Linked DNA regions of Homo sapiens. The protein of the gene in region 1 binds, or shares a complex with, the protein of each later gene. Each region holds a gene or a part of one and is shown on either strand. Other genes may lie near its edges. The genes, in order: NCBP3 and NCBP1.

Evidence for each region.
Region 2: the proteins of NCBP3 (region 1) and NCBP1 are in contact, whole or in part, in a cryo-EM structure (PDB 8BY6), measured with the Homo sapiens proteins. Residues at the interface, in NP_001107590.1 of Homo sapiens: Glu572, Asp574, Glu576, Leu577, Gln578, Ala580, Trp581, Gly582, Leu584, Ile585, Lys588, Glu589, Arg592; in NP_002477.1 of Homo sapiens: Lys330, Ile377, Glu378, Cys380, Lys381, Pro384, Pro388, Gln389, Ala392, His420, Asn423, Phe424, Gln425, Arg427, Trp428, Ser429, Glu431, Asp432.

Annotation. Positions count from the first base shown.
Region 1 is NC_000017.11:3,812,333-3,824,428, reverse strand, and holds part of NCBP3 (nuclear cap-binding protein subunit 3), read left to right. Parts: intron 1-2,376; coding exon 2,377-2,476; intron 2,477-3,076; coding exon 3,077-3,180; intron 3,181-5,856; coding exon 5,857-6,166; intron 6,167-8,158; coding exon 8,159-8,313; intron 8,314-9,945; coding exon 9,946-10,107; intron 10,108-11,149; coding exon 11,150-11,385; 3' UTR 11,386-11,774; coding exon of another isoform or gene 11,775-11,883; 3' UTR 11,884-12,096. UniProt on the Homo sapiens protein: Associates with NCBP1/CBP80 to form an alternative cap-binding complex (CBC) which plays a key role in mRNA export. NCBP3 serves as adapter protein linking the capped RNAs (m7GpppG-capped RNA) to NCBP1/CBP80.
Region 2 is NC_000009.12:97,657,821-97,664,820, forward strand, and holds part of NCBP1 (nuclear cap-binding protein subunit 1), read left to right. Parts: intron 1-819; coding exon 820-923; intron 924-3,125; coding exon 3,126-3,248; intron 3,249-4,221; coding exon 4,222-4,324; intron 4,325-5,133; coding exon 5,134-5,227; intron 5,228-6,519; coding exon 6,520-6,623; intron 6,624-7,000. UniProt on the Homo sapiens protein: Component of the cap-binding complex (CBC), which binds cotranscriptionally to the 5'-cap of pre-mRNAs and is involved in various processes such as pre-mRNA splicing, translation regulation, nonsense-mediated mRNA decay, RNA-mediated gene silencing (RNAi) by microRNAs (miRNAs) and mRNA export.

The DNA.
Region 1 (12,096 bases):
TATGTATGTATGTGTATGTGTATATATGTATGTGTGTGTATGTATATGTGTGTGTATGTGTATGTGTGTGTGTATGTGTGTGTGTATGTATGTATGTATGTATATGTATTATACACATATACACATATTGGTTTTTTTAATCATTTGAGAGTTAGTTGAAGATAAAAACCCATCACCCCTAAATGTATTCCAAAGAATAAGAACATTGTTTTATACATAGCACACTTAACAAAATCAAGAAATTTAACATTAATACAGTACTGTTACCTAATCCGTAGTCGATTTTCAAATTTTGTCAGTTGTTCCAATAATGTCCTTTATATATTCCCCGCCCAGCCCCAGGTCTAGGATCCATCCAGGACTGAGTGTGTAAGTATGTAATGTTTCCTTAGTCCCCCTTAAGCTGAAACTACTTCTATCCTCCCATGTTTTCCAAGAATATAGGTTTACTATTTTATACAATGTCCCTCAGTTTGGGTTTGTCTGATGATTCCTCCTGATTGAATTTGGGTTGTGCATTTGAGACAGGCGTGCCACAGAAGCGATGTCATGTCATTTCCAGAGCATCATGTCAGGAGGCCCTGGATACTTACTCGTCCCAGTCCTAGGGACGTTCACTTTATTCACTTGGTTAAGGTAATCATCACTAGGTTTTTCCACTGTAAAGTTGCTATTCTTCCATTTGTAATTTAAAAATTGGTGGGCTGGCTGGTTACAGTGGCTCGTGCCTGTAATTGCAACACTTTGGGATGCTGAGGCAGAAGGATCACTTGAGCCCAGGAGTTCGAGACCAGGCTAGGCAACATAGCAAGACCTCATCCCTATTTTAAAAAATAAAAAAATGATTAAAATAAAAAATTGGTGGGCAGATACTTTGAGATCACGTAAATAGCCTCTTGCTCATCAGAGCTTCATGCCTTTCTGACTATGTCATTTCTTTACCAGTAGACAGGTGCTCTAAGGAAGAGCCTTCTGTTTTTACCTGTTTGTTTATTTACATCAGTTTAGAATCATGGATTCTTTATTCAGTGGGTTATCATCCATGGATATCAGTATTTAATTTTATTTATTTTTTTGTTTGTTTTGAGACGGAGTGTTGCTCTGTCACCAGGCTGGAGTGCAGTGGCGCGATCTTGGCTCACTGCAACCGCTGCCTCCCTGCAACCTCTGCCTCCCTGCAACCTCTGCCTCCTGGGTTCAAGCAATTCTCCTGTCTCAGCTTCCCTAGTAGCTGGGACTACAGGTGCATGCCACCATGCCCAGCTAATTTTTGTATTTTTAGTAGAGATGGGGTTCACCATGTTGGCCAGGATGGTCTCGATCTCTTGACCTTGTGATCCGCCCGCCTCAGCCTCCCAAAGTACTGGGATTACAGGCGTGAGCCATCGCGCCCAGCCTAATATCAGTATTTTAATTTACAAATTGTCTTGGATTTGGCCAGTAGAGCCCCTTCAAGCTGTTTTGACATACTCCATGATTCTTTAAGCACTTTCTTTCTTTATGGCACAACAAAACATCTTGCTTTTCCAGACTCATTTTGCATCTTACCTGCTCCACATCTGGAATCAGCCATTTCTCCAAGGAGCTGGTGGGCATGGTTTGAGGGGTTCGGGGGTTGGGGGCTATACATACTGGTTTGTGTTGTCACGTTTACCTACAGCCCTGGATATATTTACAGTGGTGTTTGTTCTTTACAGTCAGAGTGTCCAAGAACTGTGGAAGGTCTTTGTATTACTACTTTTGACAAAAATTTATGATGACTGACCACCTTTCTTTCCTGTTAACTGACATTTCAACTTGACAAATGTGATCTTTACCACATTTACTCATTTGAGTGGCTGAGTACATTCTACATGTATAGTATTATGCTGTTTTCTTTAAGCCATTTTGAGGAGCACAATAAACTGGAAAAATGATTTACCAAATATATGGAATTATATGTAGTCTGTTTCCTTAATCCTGATGCTGTGTTGTTGGCATGTGATCCTTCAGAAGTGAATATCATCTTTCATGGGGTGGCAAAAATGCCACTATTTTGAGAAAGTCTTTTTGATTCCTGGGTACCTGTAATGACCTAAAGCTCTTTTATGCCTTTTGGAACCTTGTATCTTGTATTGTTTATTTTTGTTTTCTCCATTAAGTCATCTGGCTCCAAACAGCAGTTTTAACCTCATTCGTCTCTGTATTTTGCTTTATCCCCTCTACACTGCATTGCTGTAGTGGGCACTCAGAGTGTGAATGTTGGTAGTGGATTTTTACTTTTTGTTGGCAAATTGCGCTGATCTGATTCCAGCTATGGAAAACATTAAAAAAAAAATTCAACATTGTCTTTACACTCACAGGAAATCCTAGGTAACTATTGTCATTAATTTTTAGATGACAAAAAGGAACTTGGAGCAGCCAGAAGAAGTCAGTATTACATGAAATATGGGAATCCAAATTATGGAGGCATGAAAGGAATTCTTAGCAATTCATGGTGAGTCCAAAACCTTCAAATGCAATAGTATTTGAGTTTTTCTTAATCCTTCAGTTGGTATTCCGTGGTGAAATGTCTAAACCCTGTGTAAACTGGAAGGAAAACAAGAGGGAAGAATTCAAGATTCTTAGATGTGGTAAATGATGGGGAATGCTGAATTGTAGTTACATTTAAAATATCTGTGTTAGTACCTAACATTGTGTCAACGTGTAGTTGAAATGAATTAGCGAGCCCAGACATGGTGGCTCACGCCTGTAATCCCAGCACTTTGGGAGGCCGAGGCCAGCAGATCACCTGAGGTCAGGAGTTCGAGACCAGCCTGGCCAACATGGTGAAACCCCGTCTCTACTAAAAATACAAAAATTAGCCATGCATGGTGGTGGGCGCCTGTAATCCCACCTACTCGGGAGGCTGAGGCAGGAGAATTGCTTGAACCCAAGAGGCAAAGGTTGCAGTGAGCTGAGATGGTGCCATTGCACTTCAGCCTGGGAGAGAGATTGAGACTCCATCACAAAAAAAAAAGAAAAGAGAAAGAAATAGTGGATTTCAAGGTCCTTCCTATCAGTTTTTGATTGTGTGCTTATTTTGGCATTCTTGCAGGAAGCGAAGATATCATTCCCGTCGTATTCAGCGGGACGTGATCAAGAAGAGAGCCCTGATTGGGGATGACGTTGGCTTGACGTCGTATAAACATCGACATTCTGGTAGTTGCCTGCTCAGCTCTTGGGTAGACACATGTTTGGCTCCTGAAATCATATTTTTATTCTTAATGCAATCTTTTAAGGTTCCAAACTTTATCATCCTCTCTTCCTTGCCCTCACCCTCTGCCAACATATAGGAAAGTAAGTCAAGTCACAATTAATTTTAAGTTGCCCAAAGAGGTCAAATGATTTTATAAAAGCTGTTCTATCAAAAAAGGCAAAATATGACATAGGAAAAATTAAAACAAAACTTTCCTTAGGATCCTAATTTTTCTACTATTAATATCAACAGCTGCATGAAAACAATTTTTTTTTTTTTTTTAAGACGGAGTCTCGCTCTGTCTCTCAGGCTGGAGTGCAATTGCTTGATCTCGGCTCACTGCAACTCTGCCTCCTGGATTCAAGCAATTCTCCTGCCTTAGCCTCCCGAGTAGCTGGGACTACAGGCATGCGCCACCATGCCCAGCTAACTTTTGTATTTTTAGTAGAGATGGGGTTTCACCATGTTGGCCAGGCTGGTCTCGAACTCCTGACCTTGTGTTCCACCCACTTTGGCCTCCCAGAGTGCTGGGATTACAGGTGTGAGCTACCGCGCCTAGCCAAAAACAATTTTTGAAATTATTTTATCAGATGAACTGATTGTATTGTTCTTTTTCTGTATTAAAAATAGGCTGCTGTGTTGAGTGCTTTGTGCTTGTTGGTTTGTGCATGTGAATGCCTCAGAAGAGTGGGATATCATGACTTGGGTTTCTTTCTCCTTTTTTTGGTGCTTATTGTAAAAGAACCATTTTATTTATGTTTTATAAAGAATTGTTCTTGTTTTGAGCCTAATCTATGGAATCTTCTACATGCCTAATAGAACTAGTCAAGTCAGCATACAAAATAACATATACACACATTTATCATTGTAATGGGGACAGAAAGGGATGAAGTCTAGATGTTTTATTTAATGTGTATATACAAAATTGTATATTTGAGATCTACATGTTAATAATACACATAGGATGGGAACAGTGGCTCACACCTATAATCCCAGCACTTTGGGAGGCCAAGGCAGGAGGATCACTTGAAACCAGGAGTTTGAGACCAGCCTGGGCAACATAGTGAGACCTTGTCGTTACAAAAAATTAAAAAATTAGCCAGACCAGGCATGATGGCACATACCTGTGGTCCCAGCTACTTGGGAGGCTGAGATTGCCTGAGCCTGGAAGGTCAAGGCTGCAGTGAGCCAAGATTGTGCCACTGTATTCCAACCTGGGCGACAGAGCAAGACTTTGTCTCAAAATAATAATAATAATACACATACTTTACTGTTACACAGTTACACTTTTCCAATTTGAGTTACTTTAAAATATTTTCATCATATACTTTTTATATCCATATTAAGGAAATTAAAAAGCAAATTGCCCCTATTTCTAGTACCCTGTATGATGACTGAGTTCATCTTACATTTTTCCCATTTGTTTTCATAATAAATAGTATAACTCTTGGGAACATGTACTTTATATTCTACTTCTTTCGTTTATTGTATTTTTCCATTTTCATTATTCATGGTGCTTATGTTCTATAAAGTCACTGTGAACACTGAAGTAGCAAATACTGAATCGTACATAGCCTCTGGCCACATCATTTTTGTCAGTTGATCAATATGTAACCTTGTTTTACATATGTTTCTCTCTTTTTTTTTTTTTTGAGACAGAGTCTTGCTCTGTTGCCCAGGCTGGAGTGCAGTGGCGCGATCTCGGCTCACTGCAACCTCCGCCTCCCGGGTTCACGCCATTCTCCTACCTCAGCCTCCCGAGTAGCTGGGACTACAAGCGCACACCACCATGCCCGGCTAATTTTTGTTGTATTTTTTAGTAGAGACAGGGTATTAGCATGTTAGCCAGGATGGTCTCGATTTCCTGACCTCGTGATCTGCCCACCTCGGCCTCCCAAAGTGCTGGGATTACAGGCGTGAGCCACCGCGCTGGGCCCATATGTTTCTCTTTAAGACACCTTATTTAAGACACATTGTTGATTCGTTAACATTGAGTTCACAGCCAGTAGCCCTATAACTCATGCCTGAATGCCTTACCTGATATGGTATTTTTCCACAAGGCACATCACAGCCCCCTTGCATCTAGGAACACTAGGCAGCACTTCGGCACGACACTCAGGGCCATTTTAAGCAGTGAAATCACTAGCAGCAGGCACAGAAGTGTGAAAAATGTGCCACTCGGTGGACTGAAACAGACGCTTGTTTACAGCATGAGATGAAACAGGAAGGTGGAGTGTTGCTTTGTTTGACCTCCACTGGGAGTGTGTGTGCCTGGTGACTCAGATTTTTTTGCCACTCTGTGCGTGCCAGCAAATGACCATGGAAGCATTGCACGTATTCATTTTGGAGTTACAAATAAATTTGGTAAATTTGCAAATACAAAATCTGTGAATAATAAAGGTCAGTTGTATTTTAAATGACTTTATGGTATTTGGTTAGGCTGCTGCATCATACTTTACCTAGCCATCCTCCTGTTGCAGTATCAGAGTAATGTCCATTTGGCACTATTATAGATAGTGCTCCAATAAAATGTCAGGGATGGGAACCCCACCTTTTAAAAAGGTCACCGATGTAGAGTAGAAAATCATACTTGTTAATTTTAGTGCTTTTCCTAATGTTTTCTGGTTAAATTTCTTCAGGGCTAGTGAATGTTCCCGAGGAACCCATTGAAGAGGAGGAAGAGGAGGAGGAGGAGGAAGAGGAAGAGGAAGAAGAAGACCAGGACATGGATGCAGATGACAGAGTGGTGGTAGAGTACCACGAGGAGCTCCCGGCTCTCAAGCAGCCCCGGGAGCGGAGCGCGTCTAGACGATCCAGTGCCAGCAGCTCAGACTCAGATGAAATGGACTATGATCTAGAACTGAAAATGATTTCCACGCCTTCACCAAAGAAAAGCATGAAAATGACTATGTATGCTGACGAAGTGGAATCTCAGTTGAAAAATATTAGGTAAAAATTTGTTTTATCAAAGCTAGCTTTTAATTTGATTTTAAATACTAGTATAACTTCTTAATTCCTCCTAATTTTATAATATCTTTTATCTATTCTGATTTCAGTCCCTTGTAGGAGTTTAATAAACGCATCCAGTATTTCCTCTATACAAGCAGTGATTCTTGTTATAAAAACAAAAGACAACATAGAAAGTGAAAATCATCTGTATTCCCATTCTTTCTCAACAATAACTACTGTTAGCAATTTGGCGAATAACCTTTCAGCTATTTGTGTGTGTGTGTGTGTGTGTGTGTATGGCACAGGGAAAAGCTGTAGATATATTTGTATAAAAGTATACTTTTTATAAAGATGAGGTTATGCTATTTATAGTTTTGCATTGTGCATTTTTCACTTAATATATTGTAGACATTATTTTTTTCAACTGTATATAGTCTGTTGTTTGAAAGTATCATGATTTATTTAACGAATTCCTTTTTGATGGACTTTAGGTTTCTATTTTCTTACAATTGCACTAACTCAATAAATTCCTCAAAGTCCAGTTATTACACAAAACAATATGTGTTTAAAAAGATGGTAAGTATTGCTTTATTTTTTTCCAGAAGGGTTTTTTGTGTGTTTTTATTTTTTTTTTGAGACGGAGTCTCGCTCTGTCACCCAGGCTGGAGTGCAGTGGCGCGATCTCGGCTCACTGCAAACTCCGCCTCCCAGGTTCACGCCATTCTCCTGCCTCAGCCTCCCGAGTAGCTGGGACTACAGGCGCCTGCCACTACTCCTGGCTAATTTTTTGTAATTTTAGTAGAGACGGGTTTCAGCATGTTGGCCAGGATGGTCTCAATCTCCTGACCTCGTGATCCACCTGCCTCAGCCTCCCAAAGTGCTGGGATTACAGGCATGAGCCACCATGCCCGGGCTCAGAAGGGTTTTAATCCCAGAAGGGTTTTAATCACTCACATTACCACCTGTTACCTACAAGCTCACCAGCCTTAGCTATTACCATTCTTTCTAATGCTAGCTAGTTTCATGAACAAAAAAAAAATAGTTATTTTAATGTGCATGTCTTTGATTACTACTAGGGGTGAGCAGATTCTGTGCAGGCAGAATCCACAGTTCTAAGGGTTAGAGTCTAGGGATGCTCTGTGTAACGTAGTATGTTTGTGGGGAGGGGAAAAGACCATTCAAGCTGATTTGTTTGTATGGCCTTGTTCACCACGTTCTTTTTTTTTTTGAGACGGAGTCTCGCTCTGTCGCCCAGCCTGGAGTGCAGTGGAGCGATAACACGATCTCGGCTCACTGCAAGCTCCGCCTTCTGGGTTCACAGCATTTTCCTGCCTCAGCCTCCCGGGGAGCTGGGAGTACAGGCCACCACGCCCAGCTAATTTTTTGTATTTTTAGTAGAGACTGGGTTTCACCATGTTAGCCAGGATGGTCTCGATCTCCTGACCTCGTGATCCGCCCGCCTCAGCTTCCCAAAGTGCTGGGATTACAGGCATGAGCCTGTTCACATTCTTATTTTTGGTTTTCAGAGAGCTTTCTGGTAGAGAATGCTGCCGGAACGGTGCTGGCACCTAGCATGATAGCATATCTCTTTGAAAGAGAAGTCTGCCCTTTAAAGAGAGAGACTGTAGACTATACTGTGTGTTGACTACAGCCACATCACAGCATGTGTAAGTGGAAGCCCCAATCTCTTTGTAGGCCTCTACTTAACGTTTGTCCCAGAAAAGGGGGACTTGTAGTTGTATGCTGTGTAATAGCACATACACATGTGGAAACCACCTTCGAAAACCTGCTCACCAGAACCAGTCTCTTTAGAGCAGGCAGATCATGGTTTCCATAAGCAAATAATTATAAGTTTATGGATTTGTAAGTGAATGTTGGCCATGTAAGACAGGATTTCTTAAATTGTTTCCTCCAAAGTATGAGATTGTTGTTTGGGTCTTGTCTCACAGTTGAAGTTGGTTAACTGTGCCCCATCCTACCCCCTTTTTAAAGGAACTCCATGAGGGCAGATAGTGTATCTTCAAGCAATATCAAAAACCGAATTGGTAACAAATTACCACCTGAGAAATTTGCAGATGTCCGACATCTATTAGATGAGAAACGTCAGCACTCCCGTCCACGGCCACCAGTCAGCAGTACTAAATCAGGTACTGTTCCTCACTTGGATTCCTGGCTGGATTCTGAGCTCCGGAAAGCAGACTGGGGCAGAGAGAGGTTCCTGAGTAAAACATGCGATGTGTGAACTGATTTAGCTGTCCTGGTTCATCATGTCTAAATTGTGGGCTAGGTGTTGGAAATTGAGGAAATGAAAAATAATCAGACTTCTGAAAAACTAGCTTTAAATGTTTTTATTCCAAATAATTACAGTTGTTCCTTGGTATGTCTGGGGGCTTGCTTCCAGGACCCCCTCCCCGCCCCCTACAGATACCAAAATCCATTGATGCTTAAGTCCCTTATATAAAGTGACATATTATCTGCATATAACCTACACACATCCTCTCATATACTTTAAGTCATCTCTAGATTATTTACAATACCTAATACGGTATAAATTCTTATCCTGTGTTGTGTAAAATTTGTATTATTTTTTGCTGTACTCTTATGTCTTACTTTTTTTCCACATGTATTCGATCAGCAGTTGGTTGAATCTATAGATGTGGAATCCATGGATGAGGAGGGCCAACCATATTTTCCTCTGTATGACACTGGTATACTTTATATACAAGAATAATAGAAATTAAGTTCGGTGGTTGTCTGAACAGTTAAGAGTTTGAACTAGATAATTTCTATGTTCAAACACTGATTCAGCAGGTCTTTAGCCGTACCTGCTATGTGCCAGACCCTGGTCTAGGTGCTAGGAATGTGAGAAGCCTTTGGAGGGGACGCAGAGCCGTCATAGATCTACTCGGGAAGTTGTGAAAGACTTCTTAGAGAAAGTAGCATTAGAGCCAGGCCTTGGAGAGGGTAGGATCTCTGTTGGCAAACCTGATTTTTTTACATGAGAAGTAACCTGATCTTACATCTATTTTAGAAAGACAACTTGAGGGTGGAGTGGGGTGGGGTAGAGAGTTAAAAAAGTAACAAGAGCCTGAACTAGGTCGGTGGAGACAGAATGGATAAAGAACAGGATAGTCTTGTGAAGGAAGACTCAGTGCTAGGAAGTGTTGGAGGAAAGGAGCTCAGGTCTCAGTGACCAGAGACCAGGGTGCTGCTCTCTGAGAGAAGCTAAAGTGAGAGGAGACCTCGGCACAGGGCCTCACCAACGAATGTGTTTCTGTTGTTGCTGTGGTGGTTAGGGGGAACTCAAGAGGACAGGCCGATTTCTGGGGGGATTGAGGGAAAAACACATTTGATCCTTTGCCTTTTCCAGTCTCTTTATATTTACTGGTTAAATGTAATAAGTTTATTGGGAACTACTTGTATGTTCAAAGATTGTGCCTTCCACTTTCCAGGAGCTCACAGGATTTTTTGTTCGCTGAAACTTTTGTAAATTACTTAGTCTTCTTGATTCTGCTTAAAGAAAAAAAAAAAAAGGTTGTTTCTTCAGAAATATAGTTCTGGAGTAATCAGTTGAGGATTTTTCCTCTGACAGCCCCTATGTCCGAATTTTCCTAAGGAAATCCAGACTGATTACAAAGGAAGAATACTTAGCAGCCTGATTGTCAGGCCCTGTGTCCTCGGGGCAGGGGTTAGCGCCAGATCCGTTAGAGGTGTCAGGCGGCTGGTGCCGAGCATAAAGCACACACACGGTCACTGGTGCACTTTTTCTCTTTTTTCAGATATACGCCAGCGGTTAGGAAAAAGACCACATTCTCCGGAAAAGGCTTTTAGTAGTAACCCCGTCGTTCGGAGAGAGCCCTCTTCTGATGTGCATAGTAGGCTAGGTGTTCCCAGGCAGGATAGTAAAGGCCTCTACGCCGATACTCGGGAGAAGAAATCAGGTTGGTAACACTTAAAACGGATGGGAATGGGGATTCAGTGAGAGCAGAGGACAGTGGGTGTATTGGAGAAATACTTTCTTAGCAGAAGGCAAGAAACAGCCCACGCCAAATATAAGTGATTATTCCTTTTCCATTATAGTTATCGTCAGCATCAGCATCAGCATCATCCCAACAGTTAGGAACGCTTAGAAAATAGAAAAAAATAGCACACTCCTGGCTCTTTCTGTTTGGCACAAATCTTTTTAGTTTCATGTGAGCTATTCTGGTCTTTGCCCACATACAAATCCTAGTTTTTTCATACAGCATTTTATCGTAGTTGTTTGCCACATTTTATAATCTTTATAAATAAAACTTTTAGGCCAGGCATAGCGGCTCAACACCTGTAATCCCAGCAATTTGGGAGGCCGAGACGGGGGGATCACTTGAGGTCAGGAGTTCGAGACCAGCCTAACCAACATGGTGAAACCCTGTCTCTACTAAAAACACAAAAATGAGCCGGGCGTGGTGGTGGGCGCCTGCACCACTGCACTTCAGCCTGGGCAACAGCAAGACCTTGTCTCAAAAACAAAAACAAAAACAACTTTGAATTGCCTTATAATGTGGCCGTCTACAAAATTCTAAACACGTATTTCTCTATTGTTAAATTTTCATAAAATATATTTCAAAAATTAATGGAAGGGATCTGGGAGTGGCCTACTTCTGGCAGAATGGATTGGCACACAGGGTGGTGTCTCAGCAGGGAAGGGCAGGAGTAGGAGGAAACGGCCTCTCAGGTGATTCTGATGTGTCTGGTGACAGGGAGGGACCTGACCTGTCCCCCCACGGTGAGAATCCCGTGCTGGGTCCAGACCCTTCCGTTTGCGGGCAGGGGCTGCGGCCCGGGAAATGAGATTTTGCCTGCCCAAGGCTGCACTGTGGTGGCAGGCTCCACAGACTGCTGGCGTTTCCTGCACAGCAGGTGTTGGCAGTGCTGCTGCCCCCTCAGTGCTACCCTGGTTCTTAGCGCTGACTGCGAAAGTGAAATGCCATCTCATCCAAACAGGTAATTTATGGACTCGCCTAGGATCTGCACCCAAGACCAAAGAAAAGAATACGAAGAAAGTGGATCACAGGGCGCCTGGCGCTGAGGAAGACGACTCTGAGCTGCAAAGGGCATGGGGGGCTCTGATTAAGGAGAAAGAGCAGTCTCGCCAAAAGAAGAGCCGGTTAGATAACTTACCATCTCTCCAGATTGAAGTTAGTCGGGAAAGCAGCTCTGGTTCAGAGGCAGAGTCCTGATGCCCCTGGGGCCTATGGCAGCTGCCCTAAAGCCTGACATTCTTGCACAGGGTGGGGCGCGCAGTAGGAACCTCCCCCGCAGGAGCTGGCGCCCTCTCGCTCCTGCTCACACAGTCACCCTCCGCTCTTGCTACTTCGGCAAGACATCTTAAGAATGTGACACATTTTCAAGGGCATCTCTATCTTTCGCTGCAGAGTTGTAGTTCTGGGCCCTCGATTCCTTTCCCACCACCCCACAGGCTTTACCCTTTGAGAAAAAGGCAGCCCTCCAGATTTTGTAGACATTTTTCTTAATATTTTTAACATTGTGTCTTTTAAAAGAAATGTTTTACACAGTTCATCCAAAGAGCAGAGAACTGAACTTCTCACTATTGCCTTGGCCCTGACAGCTGTTACCAGCACCCTTTTCCCAAGAAAAGTCAATTCCCAGGTGCTTATTGGACATCCTTCGAGGGGGAAGAGGAGGGAAGCGGCCAGCTCACCCTTCCGGGACCCTAGTGTGGGGCGAATCTCACGGACCTGACCTCAGAGGTGCACCAGTGCCGCCCAGGTAGATAAGAGCTGCAGCATTGACTGTGCTTCCGTTCTTCCCTCGGGGATTGCTCATGGCATGGGCCTCTTACGTGCTGTCAGCTTGATGTGAAGATCAAGTTCAGTGCTGTGGGATTTTTAGGAACAAAAAACTGTGACGTCTGGATTTGGGGTTGATTT
Region 2 (7,000 bases), on another chromosome or scaffold:
CTATGAGGATTATTTATTTTGATGCCCAAATTGTCCCTGGTATGTACATGAGGAGCCCCGGTAAGCTCTCTCTCTCTCTCTCTCTCTATATATATATATATATATATTTTTTTTTTTTTTTTTAACGTCCCCAGCCATTCATTGAGCATTCCCTTATTTTCTAGAACAACATATTTAGGATCATCTTGCGTTTTCTTGCCCTATCACTGGAATCATCTATTTATTCATGGAGCCCTAGTTTCTAGTAAAGTAGTAATGGAATATGGTATTTAGGAGCCAAGATCTGGGCACTTGATATGCTCATTGCCATTGGGGTGTCATTGGTTCTAAGCCTCTTGGTGGACACACATCCATCCATCCATAACTGTTTTTATGTCCACCTGTGTGTATATATGCCTCCAATTCCAACTCAATACCTTATTTCTACACTTCTTCTCTACCATGATTTGTAAACACCTTCTCAGGCAGTAACAAACTTGGCTTCCATTATCCTCAATATTTATTTATTTGATAGAATATAGCCAGTTTCCAAAGCGTGCAGTCATCTCCACCATGCCCCATCATCACCCCACATACTTGGCCACCAGGCTCATGAGCTCACTCACCCGCACCTCAGTGCAAGCCAGTGAGTTTTGCAGTATGCCTGAGATTTGGTGTGCTGGCTTAGACAAAAACTCAAAGGATTTTTTTTTCCCTTTCACTTCTTGGTTGTCAGCTGAGTTCAAGTTGTTGGAGATCATGACTTTCCAGGTAAGTCGGGTGTTACCGAAGAATGGGACTGATAAAAGATATTTTCTGAGGCTGTTATTTGTATTGTAGGTTGTCTTACCATCAGCGTATATTAGATATTGTTCCTCCTACCTTCTCAGCTCTGTGTCCTGCAAACCCAACCTGCATTTACAAGTATGGAGATGAAAGTAGCAGTAAGTAATGAAACTAATCCCTCTGTCTTTAAAAGGTACCAGTTCAAGTATATCTGAAGTTAGTTGTTTAAAGTGGAGAAATTGAACTTTTTCTTTTCTTGGGGTTTATATTTCCTGTATTTGAAAGGTGGTCTATCATTAGCCACTGTTTTATTTGCCCTGTCATCATTTTGAGGATTTGGTTGTGATAAAATTAATTACTACTGGCTTATCATTTTTTCTCTTTTGAATGTGTTAAGTATAGCAAGATGAATTTATAGTTAGAACTTACTAAACTGAAAACGTGTATTTGTCATGGTGATGGAGGTTACTTGAATTCATTATCTTGTTCAGGTGTGGTATTGAGAACATAGATGCACATATTTGTGGCAGTATGCCTTTAAAAGTAAATTCTTAATTATGATTTTCTTACCTTTTGGTCACATAATCTCTGAAATTGCACCATAAATCAGGGAGTGTAATTTGATGTGCCATTTTGCCCTTTGCATAGTATTTACACTTAATGAAGGTAAAGTATTATACATTGTTGATCACTGGTAGAGTTAGGTGTGGAGTTTTTCCAACTTGTTCTTTGCAGATTACACTTAACACAGCCCCTCCATGATCCTTCCATTTTGTGTTGTGTAGAGGTTCTTTGTATCTCACAACTTTCTGCTGTTCTTTGCTTTTCATACTGTGTGCCTGTTTCTCCACCTCTGTCTCTGACTGTACCTGTTTTCCTTGAAATGAACTGTGTCGGTCCTGGTACATTTCCTATTTCATTATGTCAACTCTGAAGAATAGATATGATTATCAAAACTACAATGAGGAAATGACTTCCAAGAGGTCAAGCTAGAATGAGATTGCTTTTGAGTGGTGGAGCCCAAATTCAGGCGTAGGTGCACTAACTGAGTGGCCATGCTGTTAGCCACTGTGCTTTTTGGCAGATCAAAGGTTTATGCAGTACTTAGAAGTGCTGGGTTTTGAGTTTTGTCCTGTACTGGTTCCGAGAATGATAAGGTGTAGTCTTTGCTATCAGAAAGCTCAGGCTTTTGTTGAAGATTAAGCTTTCTTTTTGCCCCATAGGAATAACTCCGCCTAACATTCAAGGCCTTCATAACCATTGTTCCTACTTTGTTATTTTTCACTTCTCCCCACATGGACCTCTATTTCTGCCAGGTCCATGTACTTTTTTATTTTTTCCATACTCCCTGTTCTTGACTTTGCCATTACCCCAGTCTGGAAAGCCCTTTCTAGCTCCACTTCCTTTTCTCCTTCTAGATTCTAGCCCAAGCTCAATAGCTGTAAATATTTTTTAACCGTTAGCAAGCCAGTTTTGTATTGCTTCCTGGCTGTGTCTAATGTGAATATCTTGGTTCCCCAGCTAGAATGTAGACTGGTGACAGGGGATTCTGTTTTTCTTCGCCTTCTTTTTTTTAGAGAAAAAGCTCACAGCAGGTGTAATATGACTGTCCTCACATGACTGTTGTAATTTACTTTATTCATTCCAGTAACTCATACTCTATAACAGGATTGCCTTTTTTGTTACCTCTTTGTCTACCTTACATTAAAAGCAGATTTCTTGTTGCTCTGGTGATGCCTTACGGTGTATATTAGCACAAATTTTTATAATAAGGACTCAACTGATACCAACCAATAGTAAATACAAGGAGTCCCATCACGTGAGCATCTGACTTACGTAGATTCAAGCTTGTGGACTCAGCAAAAAAGAAAAGTACAAAAACAAAACCTCTCTGAAGTTGGCAGCCATTACCTTGTTGAGACTCAGACTTCATTTCCACGGTCCCGAGGAAAGAAAGAGGAAGTGGGTGTTGGCAAAATGAAAGAGAAGTACGTTGGTTCTGGGATTTTGAGCCCAGGAGAGTTGAGGGCATTAAAAGACAGTTTAACTGTGTCCACTTTTCTCCTTACCATTCATCTTGAGGATGATCAGCACCTTGTGCTCTAAATTTTACTTAGCTAAGTGTCCTTAATGAATTGTTGAAATGAGAATTGTCCCTTTTTAGGTGAAAAACCATTAACCTATTAGAAAAAGCTTTCACATACGGTATTTATATGTGATTAAATATTGACCTTGGGATAAAGAGCATCCTATTTTGAAAGGAAGAATTTAAAAAAAATTTTTCTCAGTTATTTAACTGTTCATTAGAATAGTCTTGAAACCTGATCTGTCATTCCCCTTACCCCCAATTCTGTGTTTAGATTCTCTTCCTGGACATTCTGTTGCCCTCTGTTTAGCTGTTGCCTTTAAAAGTAAGGCAACCAATGATGAAATCTTCAGCATTCTGAAAGATGTACCAAATCCTAACCAGGATGATGACGACGGTAAGTGGAATTCAGTATTTCTTAAGTGGAACTATGTATAGGCCAACTTAAAGCATAAACATAACTCTGGCAACATGATGCTCTTAAAGCAATATATCTATATCTGTTTGACCTGTTCAGACTGTTGTTCTTAGCACCCCAGGTATTTTCCCCTTATATAAAAAGAGATCCTAACATTTCTGTGATATAGCTTACTTAAGAATATAAACTTCATCGTAAATACAAAGTGAAATATGTTACCATTCAAGGATTTTTAACCCCTGCTTTCACCATAGAGAAGTTCCTGAATAGAAAGACTTGGTGTGTTATAAAGTTGGATGTTTTCTCCAAGTTAAGCTATTAGAATAATAATGTTTAACATTTACTCAGTTATATACCATGTAATTCCAACCAGAATCCTAGGAGTTTTTCTGGGCAAGAGTGGGAAAATTGACAAAATAATTTATACAGTTGCCTGAATCAATAAATGGATATGCACATAGAAAAACTACTGAATCAAAATAAGATATTAGTGGCCTTTGGGTATTTATTACTGGGATTTTGTTTGGATATCTCTAAGAAATTTGTATTATGATATTAGAGAAAATGAGTTTAGAAAGAATAAGCCAAAATGATGGCATTAAATTCAGATGTTGTCAGACATCTTAAGACATAAGCTTAAGTGTTTTTTTTTTTTTTTTTTGGTATTAATATAATAGAGGCTATGAATAAGGAAACCTGTGTGATTTTTTTTTTTCAAGGAATGGATGATAGAATTAAGACAGTCACATAAAACTAAGACTTAAAATTACAAGTGGTTTCATATTTTCAGTGTTTGAAATCAGTGACGGTCTTTTATTGTTTATTAGAACCAAAAAACATTACACAAATATCTGTGTATAGATGTGAGCAACCATCTATTTAGCATTTGAGGTAAGGCACCAAGGAATTGCTGTGCTTACATTTTTCTGTTTTACTATAAAATATTTTTCAGATGAAGGATTCAGTTTTAACCCATTGAAAATAGAAGTCTTTGTACAGACTCTGCTACACTTGGCAGCCAAATCATTCAGCCACTCCTTCAGTGCTCTTGCAAAGTATGTATGAGTACAGAGCCTTGCTTGAGAGTTTGGAATTTTGCTTGGTGAACACCAGTGGTATGGTAATTTTTACCTAAGATTGTTGAATATGAAGATCTTAATAGTGTATAATTGGACACAGTGGGTTTGGGTTTGTGGTAGCTGAAATCCATATCCTAAGGCTTCCGTCAGTCTGTTTGTACAGTTGGCATATGTACATGGTAAGTGCTTTTTTTCATATAGACATTTAAAGAAACTAGTGAAAAACCTAGGTTTTTGGGACAGTCATATGCAGTTGGAAGTTCCCACGCTAAATATCTTTCCAAAGCAATGTAAGAAGAAATTAGAATCAGCTACACTGTTGGGAGTCACGCAAAGGTTGGCATCTGAAGACAGGTATTTTTAACTTGTCAGACAGGGTCCAAAGGAAGAAAGAGCACATAGATTTTCCTTCTGCCAAGCAGAGAAACTGGACATCTCACCCCATCTCTGTCTCCAAGGCTTTATATTACTTGCAGGGTTCCCACAGAAGATGCAGTTTGAATATTTCACCATGTTTGAAGACAGTTCCTTAGTCCTTACCTATTCTTTTAAACTGTAGCCCTGGGCTAACGGTAGTATATTGTAAATGTCTTGAGATTTTGTGACAGCTTCCTTAAAAACTATCAATCTGTGATCACACTTTTTGCATCCTTAATGGTTAATACTTAGTTATTTTGCATTTATATATTGCATTATAAATTGAGTAACATTGAAAAGGCTTTGAAAACACTAAAATGTTTAATGAATAAGTATATATGGTATTTTTTTCCCATCATTATCAAAAGGTTTCATGAAGTCTTCAAAACCCTAGCTGAAAGTGATGAAGGAAAGTTACATGTGCTAAGAGTTATGTTTGAGGTCTGGAGGAACCATCCACAGGTAAAAATTATTTAATTAGACATGTTGAAGCTCTGATTGTATGGGTATAAAAATAAGGCCGTTAATTGCCATTGTTTTGTTTGTAAAACATGAAATTTGACTCTGCCTAGATAATGGTTTTTAGATCTAATTCTTTCAGTGCTATGGGAGTAATGATGTTTCATTCATTCTTGAAAGAGTAAGCATTATTATGATTTGGTTTTGAACTATAATATCTCAATATGTTTTAAATGTTCAGGAAAAGGTTTATCTAGTCTATCCAGTTTCTAAATGCAAGCTCCAGATTTCTCAAACCTTGATATATATTGTGTATGACAAAGAAACATTTAAATAAATTTCATAAAACAGTGAGTGTGTAATGATAAAACATTGTTTTACATTTAACTTCTGGGGTTCATTGAAATTATGTATTTTTTTGAATACGTATTAGTACCTGAAATTTAAATTTTTTTTTGGAGACAGAGTCTCACTCTGTCACCCAGGCTGGAGTGCAGTGGCGCAATCTTGGCTCACTGCAACCTCCGCCTCCCGGGTTCAAGTGATTCCCCTGCCTCAGCCTCCCGAGTAGCTGGGATTACAGGCGTCCACCACCACACCTGGCTGATTTTTGTATTTTTAGTAGAGATGGGGTTTCACCATGTTGGCCAGGCTGGTCTGGAACTCCTGACCTCAGGTGATCTGCCCACCTCGGCCTCCCAAAGTGTGCTAGATTACAGGTGTGAGCCACCGCGCCTGGCCAGTTTTTTCAAATTTTAACTGTTACCATTCAGAGTTTTTGTTTAGTCAACCTGTTTCTTGTAGTGCTAGAGCAAAGCAAAGGGGAGAATAAATCTTAAGACCTAATGATCAGGCCAGGCGTGGTGGCTCTTACCTGTAATCCTAGCACTTTGGGAGGCCGAGATGGATGGATCACTTGAAGCCAGGAGTTCGAGACCAGCCTAGGCAATACAGTGAAACCCCGTCTATACTAAAATTACAAAAATTAGCCAGGCATGGTGGTGCACACCTGTAATCTGAGCTGCTCAGGAGGTTGAGGCAGGAGAATTGCTTGAACCTAGGAGGTGGAGGTTGCAGTGAGCTGAGATCGTGCCACTCCACTCCCGCCTAGGTGACAGAGCAACTCTGTCTCCCAAAAAAAAGACCTAATGGTCAGATTGATCAATCAATTCCATAGCCACCAAAACTAAATTTTATAGCCCTCCTATTTTACTTTTATAGCAGCAGTGTGGTGGCACATATATATGTGTGTGTATGTGTGTGTGTGATTTACTTGAATAATTCTCTCATTGTAGATGATTGCTGTACTAGTGGATAAGATGATTCGTACACAAATAGTTGATTGTGCTGCCGTAGCAAATTGGATCTTCTCTTCAGAACTATCTCGTGACTTTACCAGGTAATATAAATTATTTTATGAAACTTGTGTTCCCTAAGAATTGATATATGTGTGGTCTCTTATACATAAGCTTCAAATTCTGGTCCAAACCAGGTTGATATTAATATACTAATGGTCCAATCTGGTAGGATTGGACATGGCAAAAATTCCTAGACAGTGGAAACATACACAGCCTATCAGGTTGCAGCGTCTCTTAGCAGGGACACTCTTAAGTTGAATCAAGGCTAAGCCAGTGAAGTAGAAATCCTGTTGAAGGATCCAGACTGTTGGGAGAGAAAACTAGCAAGAGCCAGCTATGTGCAGAGTCTCAGCTAGTCCAGATGGAACTCGGGAAGGGTTCCAGCTTCAGTGGGGATGGCACCTAGAATGCACACCAG